2 separate regions of the Homo sapiens genome follow, and region 1 is linked to region 2. The links come from fine-mapping of genetic effects on gene expression. A gene starts in region 2. The other region holds a variant in brackets. All regions are shown on one strand. Distances are from middle to middle.

The links. PIP is the estimated chance that this variant, and not a neighbour inherited with it, causes the effect. A credible set is the group of variants that fine-mapping cannot tell apart.
Region 1: its variant is the best candidate, but not a certain one, in a credible set for the expression of ACAP3 in nasal epithelium (TOPMed, PIP 0.57).

Annotation. Positions count from the first base shown.
Region 1 is chr1:1,536,573-1,541,897 of GRCh38, reverse strand. TMEM240 (transmembrane protein 240) reads left to right here and starts at 1,274. Exons shown (of 4, transcript NM_001114748.2): 1 at 1,274-1,608; 2 at 2,108-2,214. The coding sequence starts at 1,552. SSU72 (SSU72 homolog, RNA polymerase II CTD phosphatase) reads left to right here. Exons shown (of 5, transcript NM_014188.3): 5 at 1-225. RefSeq lists a silencer at 2,395-2,689. The variant G/T (reference allele first, on the strand shown) is at 2,974.
Region 2 is chr1:1,305,855-1,311,215 of GRCh38, reverse strand. It overlaps ACAP3 (ArfGAP with coiled-coil, ankyrin repeat and PH domains 3), which reads left to right and starts at 3,286. Exons shown (of 24, transcript NM_030649.3): 1 at 3,286-3,447. The coding sequence starts at 3,401. It overlaps PUSL1 (pseudouridine synthase like 1), which reads right to left and starts at 2,619. Exons shown (of 8, transcript NM_153339.3): 1 at 2,496-2,619; 2 at 2,244-2,301; 3 at 1,943-2,130; 4 at 1,613-1,762; 5 at 1,365-1,535; 6 at 528-582; 7 at 145-307. The coding sequence starts at 2,572. RefSeq lists silencers at 1,978-2,107, 2,118-2,257, 2,288-2,357, 2,578-3,257, 3,298-3,467 and 2 more.

The DNA.
Region 1 (5,325 bases), 230 kb before region 2:
CAAGTTTCTTCTTTTCCACTTTTACTTATGAGCAGGATATTGATTACAAAGTTTTTCTTCTTTAACCAAAAAGGAAAGACAACGGTTTGTGTGCACTTCCCGACATACCTGTGTCTTCGTGTGCCTGCCTTCCCTCCCTCCTCCCCACCGGGCCGGACTGTACAGAGCCCTGCTGCGGCGTGTTAGGAATGACCTGGAATTGTCAATAAACAGATGCTGCTGTCATTGTGCCTGGTCCTGAATTCCTGGCCCGACCCTCGCCCCTGAGGAGGTGGCAGAGGCCTAGCCCTGCCGCCCTCAGTGACCTCCGACCACTGCTTGGGAGGAGTAGCTCAGACCTGGTGGTGCTGACAGGGTCTGGGCCTACCCGTGCCTGTGCTGCCTGAAGCGGAAGCCGCCTGCTCCTGCCACAACTGCTGCCTGTGGTGGAGCGGCGTCCCCTCTCCATGTGGAACCCCCCCGGGCGGGGATCCCCCAAGGCCAGCTACGGGGGAGGCTGAGCCGGGAGGATCGCCTGAGCCCAGGAGTGGAGGCTGCAGTGAGCCTGGATGGCGCCACGACCCAGGCTGGGTCCCAGGCATAGCTTCCCGCTGACTTCCTGCTGAGGCCGGGGGTCGGCTCCCGGGCCTGAGACATGGTCACCGGTCGTGGATGAGAGTTTGGCCTCAGGACCCCGAGCCAGGGACAGCCACAGCGGAGTGGTGGCCACTGGGCCTCTGAATGGCCGGCGTCCCGACCCATGGGCCTGGGCTGACCCCCTCGTCCCCGCCCTAAGGGAAGCCTGTGCGGGGCGGCCCTGCCCTCGGCTCCTGTGCCACATCCCTCCGTTGAGGATTCCAGGGGTCATCCCGTCCCTGACCTGTGGCCCCCACGGCCGTGGGGCTGTCGCGACCTTGCGGACCCCACCCTGGAGGCACGTGCGTGCCGAGCGGACTGGGGCAGTCCCGCACCCGGCGACCTGGGAGTCCAGGACGTAGGGCGGAGCAGTGGGGCGGGAAGGGCCTCGGCGCCCCTCCAGGACCGGAGGACTGGCGTCCAGGGTCACCGGACAGGCCACCGGGGCTGGGTCTGACCAGACTGGGGCGGGACGCGAAGCCGAGGCTCCCGGGGAGGGGTCCCGGCCGGCGTCCGGGGGATGGCGGTCTCCTCCCGGCGCTGGCACGGGGCGGCCTGCGGTCTGCGCGGTCCCTCCCGAGAGGCGGAGGAAGGCGGCGGGGAGGGAGGGGGGAGGAGGGAGGAGGAGGCAGGGAGGGGGCCGGAGCCGAGCGGAGCCGAGTCGAGCCGAGCCGAGCGCATCGCAGGGAGGACCCGAGGGCGGAGCGGAGCGCGGCGGGCCGGGCCGAGAGACCCCAGAAAGGCCCCGCGTCCCTCCCCGGCGCCCCCCCCCCCGCGCCTCCTCCCCCCGGCCGGTGCCGGGGTTGCAGCGAGCGGCGGCGGACGATCCAGGGAAGCGCTGACCTCTGCGGAGGCGGCGGGGGCTCAGCATCGGGCCGGGGCCGGGGGGGCGCCGGGGCCGGGGGGCGGCGCTCCGGCCCGGCCCGGCCCCGCCCGATGTCCATGAGCGCGAACACCATGATCTTCATGATTCTGGGGGCGTCGGTCGTGATGGTGAGCGGAGGGGCTTCCCGCGCGCGCCCCCTGCTCCCCGCCCGCGCGCGCCGCCTGGCCCACCTCCCGCGCCTTGTTTACCGCCCGTGCGGCCTGCGCTCCCCTCCCCGGCCTGCGCTCCCCTCCCCGGCCTGCGCTCCCCTCCCCGGCCTGCGCTCCCCCACCCCGGCCTCCGCTCCCCTCCCCAACCTGCGATCCCCACACTCCCTACGCTCCTCTCTCCGGCCTACGCTCCCCCCACCCCGGCCTGCGCTTCCCCCTCCCCGGCCCGCGGTCCCCTCCCGGGCCTGCGCTCCCCCCACCCCGGCCTGCGCTCCCCTCCCCAGCCTGCGATCCCCATACCCGCTGCGCTCCCCCTACCAAGGCCTACGCTCCCCTCACCCCGGCCTGCGCTCTCGCTCCCCGCTTGCGCTGCCCCGACCCCGGCCTGCGCTCCCCACCCCCAGCCCCGCTTCGTCCCGCCCGCTCCTTGGCGCTGACCGGTCATGAGCTCTTCCAGGCCATCGCGTGCTTGATGGACATGAACGCGCTGCTGGACCGATTCCACAACTACATCCTCCCGCACCTGCGGGGCGAGGACCGCGTCTGCCACTGCAACTGTGGCCGGTGAGTCCACAACCGGCGCCGGCTCGACACGCGTGAGCGCACATGTGTGGCGGGGCCCACTCGGGGCGCGGGGGAACCAGCCCCACGCAGGCCGCGAGCCGCCTTCCACCCTTGAGGGCTGCCAGGTGCGCAGGGGGAGGAGCTGTCTCAAGGTGGGCGGGGGTCTCCTGGGGGCGCATGGCTTTAGGACGCCGTTCCTAGAGGCCTCCAGGGTGATGGCGGAATGGGTCACGGGGCCTCCTGGTCCAGCCTGGAGGCCGGAAAGCCGCAGCCCAGTGTGATGTCCACAGTGGAGACCCAAGCCAGCCTCATCAGGGCTGGGGCAGGAAGCGCCTGCTGGCACAGGGCTGGGCCCTGCACTGAGTCCCTGGGCAGGGGAATGCAGGTCAAGGCGGGAAGGGCCTGCCTTGAGGGGCACTGGGCACCACCCCCGGGCTGGAGAGGAGCTGAGGGATGGGCTGGGGGGGCAGCGGGGAGGTGGAGCTTCCTCAAGGTCATTCAGATTGAGGGGAGCGCCCAGACCCCCCGCACCCACCGTGTGACCCCCTCTGTGCACGTGTAGCGATGGGATCCTCTTGGCCATGCATGTTTGTACGTCCATGTACGAAATAAACATCTTCTCATGAGACGCGCATGTGTGTGGCGTCTGTGCATATACATGTGCGTACACACAGCCCCCGCGCACGCACGCATGCACTTCCACCCCTCAGGACACCCTCACGCAGTGGCCGCTGTTAACCCTGCTGAACAGATGAGGAA[G/T]TGGACGGAGGATTTAGAGGACAGGCTTTTCCAAGGTCACACAGCTAGTGAAGGACAAAGGGGGCACCAGCCCAGAACCCGTGTTCGTCATCTCTGCTGCCTCCTGCTCCGGGGGTCTCTGTGCATACGTGTGGGTGTGGGGCATGTGTGTTCAGGACAGCTGCATGTGTTGCTAAGCGTGTGACATGCCTATGGGTGCAGCAGGCGTGTCGATGAAGAACACGGGTGTTAGAGAAGGCAGAGATCGGGGTGTCTGTGACCCTCACGTGTGCTGGGCACAGGGTAGGGGGTAAGAGCTTGTGGGGTGGCCACATGCTACCAGAGAGCCCCGTGTCCCTGGCTGGCAGGTCCGACTGCTGAGCAAAGGCCTGAGGTCGGCTCCACTGCCTCCCGGAGGCTGGGCCCAGACCCGAGCTCCAGAGCATCAGAAAGGTGCGGCCTCCACGCACGTGGGCTGGGGCCGTGTGCATCCGCCTGTGGCAGCACACTGAGGGCTCCGCGGGGCAGGCAGAGGCGCCTTAGAGTATTTGCACAGGGCATGTAGGGCGGCTCATGCCGTGTCCAGAGCACGCGTGGACTCGGGTGGGTGCACGCTGAAGGCAGCCGTGTGTGGGAAGCAGAGCCACAGCCTGCTGTAGACGGTATTGCTGCGTGTGTGTCCATGTATCTATGCTCTGTTCACATCTCTACATACAGGATATGTACGTTCAGCGTACAGAGTGCCCTTGTATATTGACAACATATATGTGTATGCAAAGTACATGTATGTCACAATATACAGTGCCGTGTGCTCAGGGACATGTCAAGATGTCTCCGTGTAGCTGCAGCCAGTGTGTGTGCAGACAGCAGTCTTGCACATGCGGTATCTGCGTATCCACCATGCCCGTGCACTGCCATGAGAGGCTCCCTGTGTGTACACGCTGGTGTTCAGAACGAGTGTGTGTACATGTGTAGGCCTCATACGTGCCTATACGTAGACGTTGACGTGGAGAACGTGTATGGAAATCAATGCTCCAAAGTCTGTTGGCAGGCAGCGTCCAAACTAGACATCCGTCCATGCACGTGACGTGGCGCCCCGTGGAGAGGGTGGCTGCGTTTTGCAAAGCCAAGCGAACATGCACTCGCGTGACACACCGTGCACAGGGCGGGGGTGTGGCGCTCCCGGGGCCCATGTCCACAGTATCACGCCATGTCCCGTGCATGTGGCTGGTGTGTATACGTGATGTACACTGGGCCTCAGGTGGACACACCTGGTGTGTGTGGTGCAGGCAGGACACACGTATGTACATGTCACAGACATACGTGTGCAGATAGCATATCTCTGCCCAGGCCTATCTCCTGCTTTCACTTGGGAGACCTGAGCCCTCCAGGAAGGAGGGCCAGGTGCAGGGAGAGGAGCTACAGGTACCCAGGCCAGCCATGGTGGGGGACACAGGCTGTGACCTCTGACCCCCAAAGTTACTGAGCCCCTGGGGTGGGTGAGGACTCTCTAAGGGGTCAGGAACAGCTTCCTCCCCTGAGGGCCTCTGGCAGCTGCACATTCTGGGCAGTGGTCAGCAGCTGCCCATTGGTGACGATGGACGATGGCTGTGGACAGGCTCGTCACCAGGTGATCGGTGGCCACCAGGAATCAGCCACGGTCATGGTCACTCCTCACCGAGAGCCCTGCCACTGAAAGCGGCCACTTTCCGGATATGCTGAGGGGACTGACCTCCGGGAACCCCAGAAGAGCAGGAGGGCTTCAAGGGGAGCGTGGGGCAGGGGACACCTCCTCCCTGTTCCTGGGCTCGGGCCCCAGGACCCCCCAGATCTCACTGAGGGAAGGCACCTGTGTGGTCCCCGCTGGGCACAGGGATGGCCTGGAGAGGGCTGCAAGACCCTGGGTTGGACGGACAGGCTGGGCTTTCAGTGTGGGAAGTACTTCTGGTTGGGGTGTGGAGGGTGGGGTGGTCTCTGGGTCTCGGCTGAAAACCAGGCTGAGGCGCTGCTACGTCACCGAGGGGAAGGTGGGGGAGAAGCAGGTCTGGGGAGAGAGGAGCTATTTTTAGGCACAAGTTTAAGGTGTCTGCGGATCCCACGTGGAGACACAGGCAGCTGGAGCTCGGCGGAGATGTGGGAGGCAGCCAGGAGTGTGGACCGCAAGGCGCGTGGGGCCCGCGGGCTCCACTCCCAGGCCCTCCTGTTGGACTAGGGATCCCAGAGTTGACTGTCTGGGATGCCAGTCCGATCGGCAGAGTCAAGGCCCGGAGACCTTCCTGGGACAGGGTGAGCTGCTGGGGCGAGCTCCTTGGGGAGCTTGTGTTGCCCCAGCAGCAAGAGGCCAGAGGCTGTTGTGGCCTGAGCCTGGGCAGT
Region 2 (5,361 bases):
CTGGCCTGAGGGACTGCAGCCCTGGGCGGGGGGCTGCTTCACCCCCAGTTGCTGCCGTCAGTGGCCCCTGGCCCCCCACCCCATGCCTCGGCCACAGTAGTCACTGGGCACATGACAGGAGCTTCTCGTGCCTGTTTTTCTTACCGAGGTTCCCGTACAGCACTGACTTGAGGAATAAGCCGTGGGCTGGGGCTACACGTGTCTGGTGCTTGCCCAGGGGATCTTGGCTCTCCAGAATCGTCTTCACCTGGGCAGGTGCCAAAGCCCCCAGCCCCACGGCCACCAGCACAGCCGTCATCCTCCGTACCTGTGACCCAGAGCCACCTGTGACCCAGAGCCGCCCGTGACCCACCAGCACAGCCGTCATCCTCCGTACCTGTGACCCAGAGCCGCCCGTGACCCACCAGCACAGCCGTCATCCTCCGTACCTGTGACCCAGAGCCGCCCACGACCCAGAGCCAAGACTGCACAGGGGCCTGCCCACCCTCAGCCCCACCCCCTGGGGACGGCCCCAGAACAGAGCCTACCTGTCTATACAGGAAAGACTGGCTCTCAAACTCCAGGTTCCAGAACCGCAGCTTCCTGGAAAAATACGTACCTGTAGGTGTCTGTGGGGCAGTGTTTGCCATCCTCAGCCTACTATGTGGCCTTGGACGGGAGAGTGACAGGGTGGGCCTAAAGACGAGCCTGGTTCCCACTAGCTTGGCCACCAGGGGCCCTGGCTGATCTCCTGCCCCCAGTGAGGCCCATTGGAGGGGCTTAAAACCAGAGAAACAATGCTTGGGCAAGGAGGCAGCAGGACCCTGGAGGCTGGGCAGGTAGCCTGGCCATCCCAGAGGGGCTTGCCCTGGGCCCTCACCTAGGGTCCTGGTGCAGGGTCTGGGAACGTGGCTGGTGCGGGTGCCAGAGACCCCCAGTCCTGTACCTGCTGCTCTGCCACAGAAGTCTGGGGCTGGCAGAAGTTCTTCCCCCCTTCAGGGCTCACCCCAATAGGGGAGGTTCTGGTCAGAAGCTGCCACCTGGTGGGTGGCCCTCGGGACAGTGCTGGGGGCAGCAGAAACCACCCCACCAGAACCACTGGCACCAGTGAGACCTTTCCAGTAGCTGCCAACATTCTTCCATCAGGCATGGCAGGGGTTTTTCAGAGACAAGCAGCCTTCCCTGTTCTCCGCTCCCCAGCCTGGGGGGAGGGCACAGCTGGAGGCTGGGGGGCGTCCGGGCGAATCCCCTCCAGCTGTCCAGGTCCTGAGGACTCCCGGCTGCCTGCCTCCCGCCTCACCTTGCCTTAAAACTGGGGGAGGTGCTGGAGCTAAAATCAGCACGTGACTTGAGGGCAGGGCCACAGCCCAGGGGCCCTTCCTCACCTGCTCTCCTCGGGGGTGACCAAGGGGCTGGCTTGGCCTGGGGAAACGGAGACCCGGCGCAGCGTTCGCACGGGGCTCGGCACCGGGCTGCCAGCGGACTGGAAGGCGCTGAAGTCGTGTGTGCCGAGGAGGTGCTGGGCGGCTTCCTGCATGGCGACCATATCCAGGCAGCTTCAGGGACCAGGGTGACCGTCAGGAGGGTGGGGCCGGCCTGCCCGCCCCCTCCCCGCTGTCAGGGCCACACTCACTCTGCCGGGAGAGTCCAGCATAGGTTGCGTTCAAACACCGGCAGCTCATCACGCCGGTGACAGCCAGTGGCCAGGCGGTACAGGTAGGTCCGGGACGTGGCTGCGTGACGAGCGTGGAAGTCGCTGGGCACTCGGAAGGCCCGCAGGACCCTATGGCGGCAGGTAAAGCTCACCGGAGGAACGACCCCGCCCGCCCGCGGTGTCACATTGGCTCTCCTTCCCCCTCGAGCTCCGACCAGACAAGGAAGTCTGTCCAGATCTCCAGCCTCCGCCCGCGACAGATGGAGTCGGGAAGGCACAGCCCCAGGGCTGCTTAGGTCGCGGGCTCACCTGATGGCCGGGTGCCGCAGGTGTGTGTTGAGGGCCTCGGCCAGGACCTCGGGCGGGAAGGGCGGCCGGCCTGAGCGGCGCTGGACGTCCAGGTGCGCCGCGTTGCTCAGGGCGTGGACCCCGGCGTCCGTGCGGCTGGAGATGGTGAACCTGACCGGCTCCACGGAATTCAGCCGCTCGGCGGCCTCCTGCAGGACCGAGCCGCGGGGCGGGCGGGTGAGCGAGGCCGGACCCCGGGGACGCGCGGGCGGGAGCCTCCCCCTTACCCCTCACCGGGCGTCCCGTGACCGGCTGAGCGCACCTCCAGGTAGTTCTGGACCCCGACGGCGCGCTGAGTGCCCCTGACGGCCGCGACCCCGCTGCGGGCAGAAGCGGGCGGAGGTTACCGGGGGCGCCCTGCCCTGGGGTCTCCGCCGCCGTCTGAGGCCAGGGCCGCTTCCTTCCCCGAACGTTTGGAACCCGCGTCCAGAGACATCCGCCTGCCCGCCCGCGCCCTCCTTCCCGCCTCCGCCCGGGCCCACGTGGCGCCCGCCGCTGCGCCTGGGAAACCTACTTAAAGTCGGTGCCCACGTACTGGAAGTACACAAGATAGCGCGCGCGCACGGAGCCTGAGGCCGGCGCCGAACTCATGGCGGAGCCCAGCCGGTGGCGTCAGAGGCGGCCTCCAGCGCAGGAATCCTGCGCGCGCGCGGACGCGGCCTGGTCACGCCCCCCCCCCCTCCCCCCCGGCCCCGGCCGCTCTTGCGCCTGCGCGGTGGCACCGCGCCACGGCGGCCAGAGTCGGGGAGCGGAGGCGGGGCCGGGCTTAGGGAGCGGCTGCAAAGTGCCGGCCCGCCGCCGAGCGCAGGCGCTCTACCTCTATCGCGGCGCCCCGGGAGGCGCGCACCAACCACGCGGTCACCCCGCGCTCTCGCGGGCGTGCATTCGTTCACTCGCTCATTCATTCGCCGCCGCCCACACTCCCCGAGCGCGCCCGTTCGCCGCGTTGCGGCCAAGTCCTCCCAGACGTGGTTTTTGCAAACGCCCTGAGTTGCGCAACGGCCGGGATGGTTGGAGCGGGCGGGCCCGCGCCCTCCCCGCGCCCTCCCCGCGCCCCACATTTCCACCGACTGTCCCCGGAGACGGCCGTGGCAGGCCCCGCCTCACTTCCGGACCGGGGTGGTCCCTGGACGCTGCGAGAGGCGTTTGGCGACGCTCCCCGGCGGTGACAGCGGGCGGCGCGCGCGGGCGGCGGACCTTGGCGACGCTCCCCGGCAGTGACAGCGGGCGGTGCGCGCGGGCGGCTGACTTTGGCGACGCTCCCCGGCGGTGACAGGCGGGGCGGGGCGCGGCGCGGCGGCCTCATTCCGGGGCGGGCGGGCGCCGAGGCGGCGCGGGCGGGACGAGCGGTCCGGGCCGGCGCGGCTGCCGCTCGGCGCCGCGGTCCTCGTGCCAGTGAGCGCCGCGGCCGCCGCAGCCATGACCGTGGAGTTCGAGGAGTGCGTCAAGGACTCCCCGCGCTTCAGGTGCGCCGCCCGGGGCCGCCGGGGTGGGCGCAGGCCGGGGGCGTCGCTGTCGCCTTTGTGCCCGGCGGCGGGGTGGGGAGGTCAGCGCCGGGCCGGGCCGCGGCCGCCGGGGAGGGGCTGGAGGACCGGCCTCGGACAAAGCGGCGGCCCCGCCCCGCCATGCCCCGGGGGTTGGAACAAAAGACGCTCCTGCCCTGTGCGGCCGCCCCGGGTGGAGGGCGTGCGCGTGGGCAGCCGTGGGCACCTCGGGACCGTCCGCCCCCGCTCTGTGTCTGCACCTCCACTGGGCTGAGCCCCTCCCGGGCCCTGCAGTCCAGCTCTGGCCAGGGTCGTCTGGGTCCGTGGGGGCGTCGGCCCCTGGTCTCTGACTTGATCCTGTGTCCAGAGCAGCGCGTGGGGAACAGGCAGCTGGAGCCGCGTTTAAGGCCTGGGGTAGGGTGCTTGGAAACGTGAAGTGGTTTGAATGACCCAGGGGCTTGGAGGGGTGGCGGCCGAGAAGAGCGGCGGGGAAGGTCAGGTAGGGGGTAGGGGTTGTGTGCACACCGAGTCTGCATGTTTTCCATCATTCGTGGCGTGCAGGCGTGTACACCTGCGTGAACTACATGTTCACAGACGTGTGCACAAGTGTGCATCGGCTTTGCTTGGTGGACATTTGGCAAACGACAATGGAGGCAAAGAAACCTCTCTGCATCCCCAAGTGCGCACCTGCGTGAGGCCCCCTCCTCTGCACGAGCTCGTGCGGGGTGCGCTCTTGTGAACTTTGCCCCTCTGCGTGCCTCCCTCCGGACACCAGGCCTTGCACAGGACGTGTGGATGAGCTGTGCCACGGGGCTGTGCTTGCTTCTGCATGTAGCCTGCCGATGAGTGCACGCAAGCGTGTGCACACACCACCTGTCTGTGTGGGTTCACGTACTGTGTTAGCCATGTCAGCAATAGACACATCACCTTGTACACGCGTGTTCCATCACTAGGTACACATGTTGATGCGTGTCTGTGCAGTGTCTCCTTGAACACACATGTATGTGTGGTACCAGTGTGTGCAGGCATGTTTGTGCATGAACATGTTTGCACATGTGTGCTTGATTGTGTATGTGTGGGTGTGCACGCGCGCGCTGGGTCTCTTGGGATCTGCTGGCAAGTCAGCATGTGTGTGGAGGCACGGGGAGCCTCTGTATCCCTGGAGCCCTCACCAGGAGGCTCAGGAGCCTTGGAGTGGGAGGCTCAGGGCCAGCCAGGAGAGTGGCCGCCAGCCCTGGGCAGAGGAACTGGGGCCATCCTCTGCTCTCCCATCTTCTGTTGCTGACCTGGGAAAAGGGGTTGAATAACTTGAGCACCCTAGGATCCTGCATTGAGGACCCGGGCTGTGGGGAGGTGTGGGCATGGCCTCCCTGCTGGGGGCTGGACCCTGGCTGAAGCACCCACCTTCTCCCTGGCCCCTCCGTCAGAAGCCTAATGGACCTCCTCCTCCACGCAGACGGCCCTGTACTGCCCTCTTCCAGTCGTGTGGGGGTGCTGGAACCCACTCACCTCTGGGCCTTCTCTCTGGTAACCGGCTCTCATGGGAGCCTGTTACAGGAGCCAGTTATGGGGGCTGTGGGGCTGCAGTAGGTGCCGTAGAGTGACTGCCCTGGGAAAGTGCCTCACCCCTGTGGGGCATGGACTGGAGTGGGGAGATGAGAATGGCCTGGCCCAGTGGGTTTTGGGGTTAGGCTGTGATTTAACTGGGGTTCGAGGGGCTCCCTGAGGCTGTCCTGGGGGCAGGCCCTAAGGGCGTAACTTGAGTTTCCTGGCCTACCGCCAGGTTGGGGGGCCAGGCAGGGTGGGCGGGAAGATGTGGTCTGTAACGTGGAGCCTGGTCGCCCCAGCCCGGGAGAGGGGGACCCTGCCCGCACCCTCCTGGTCTGGGGAGGGCCT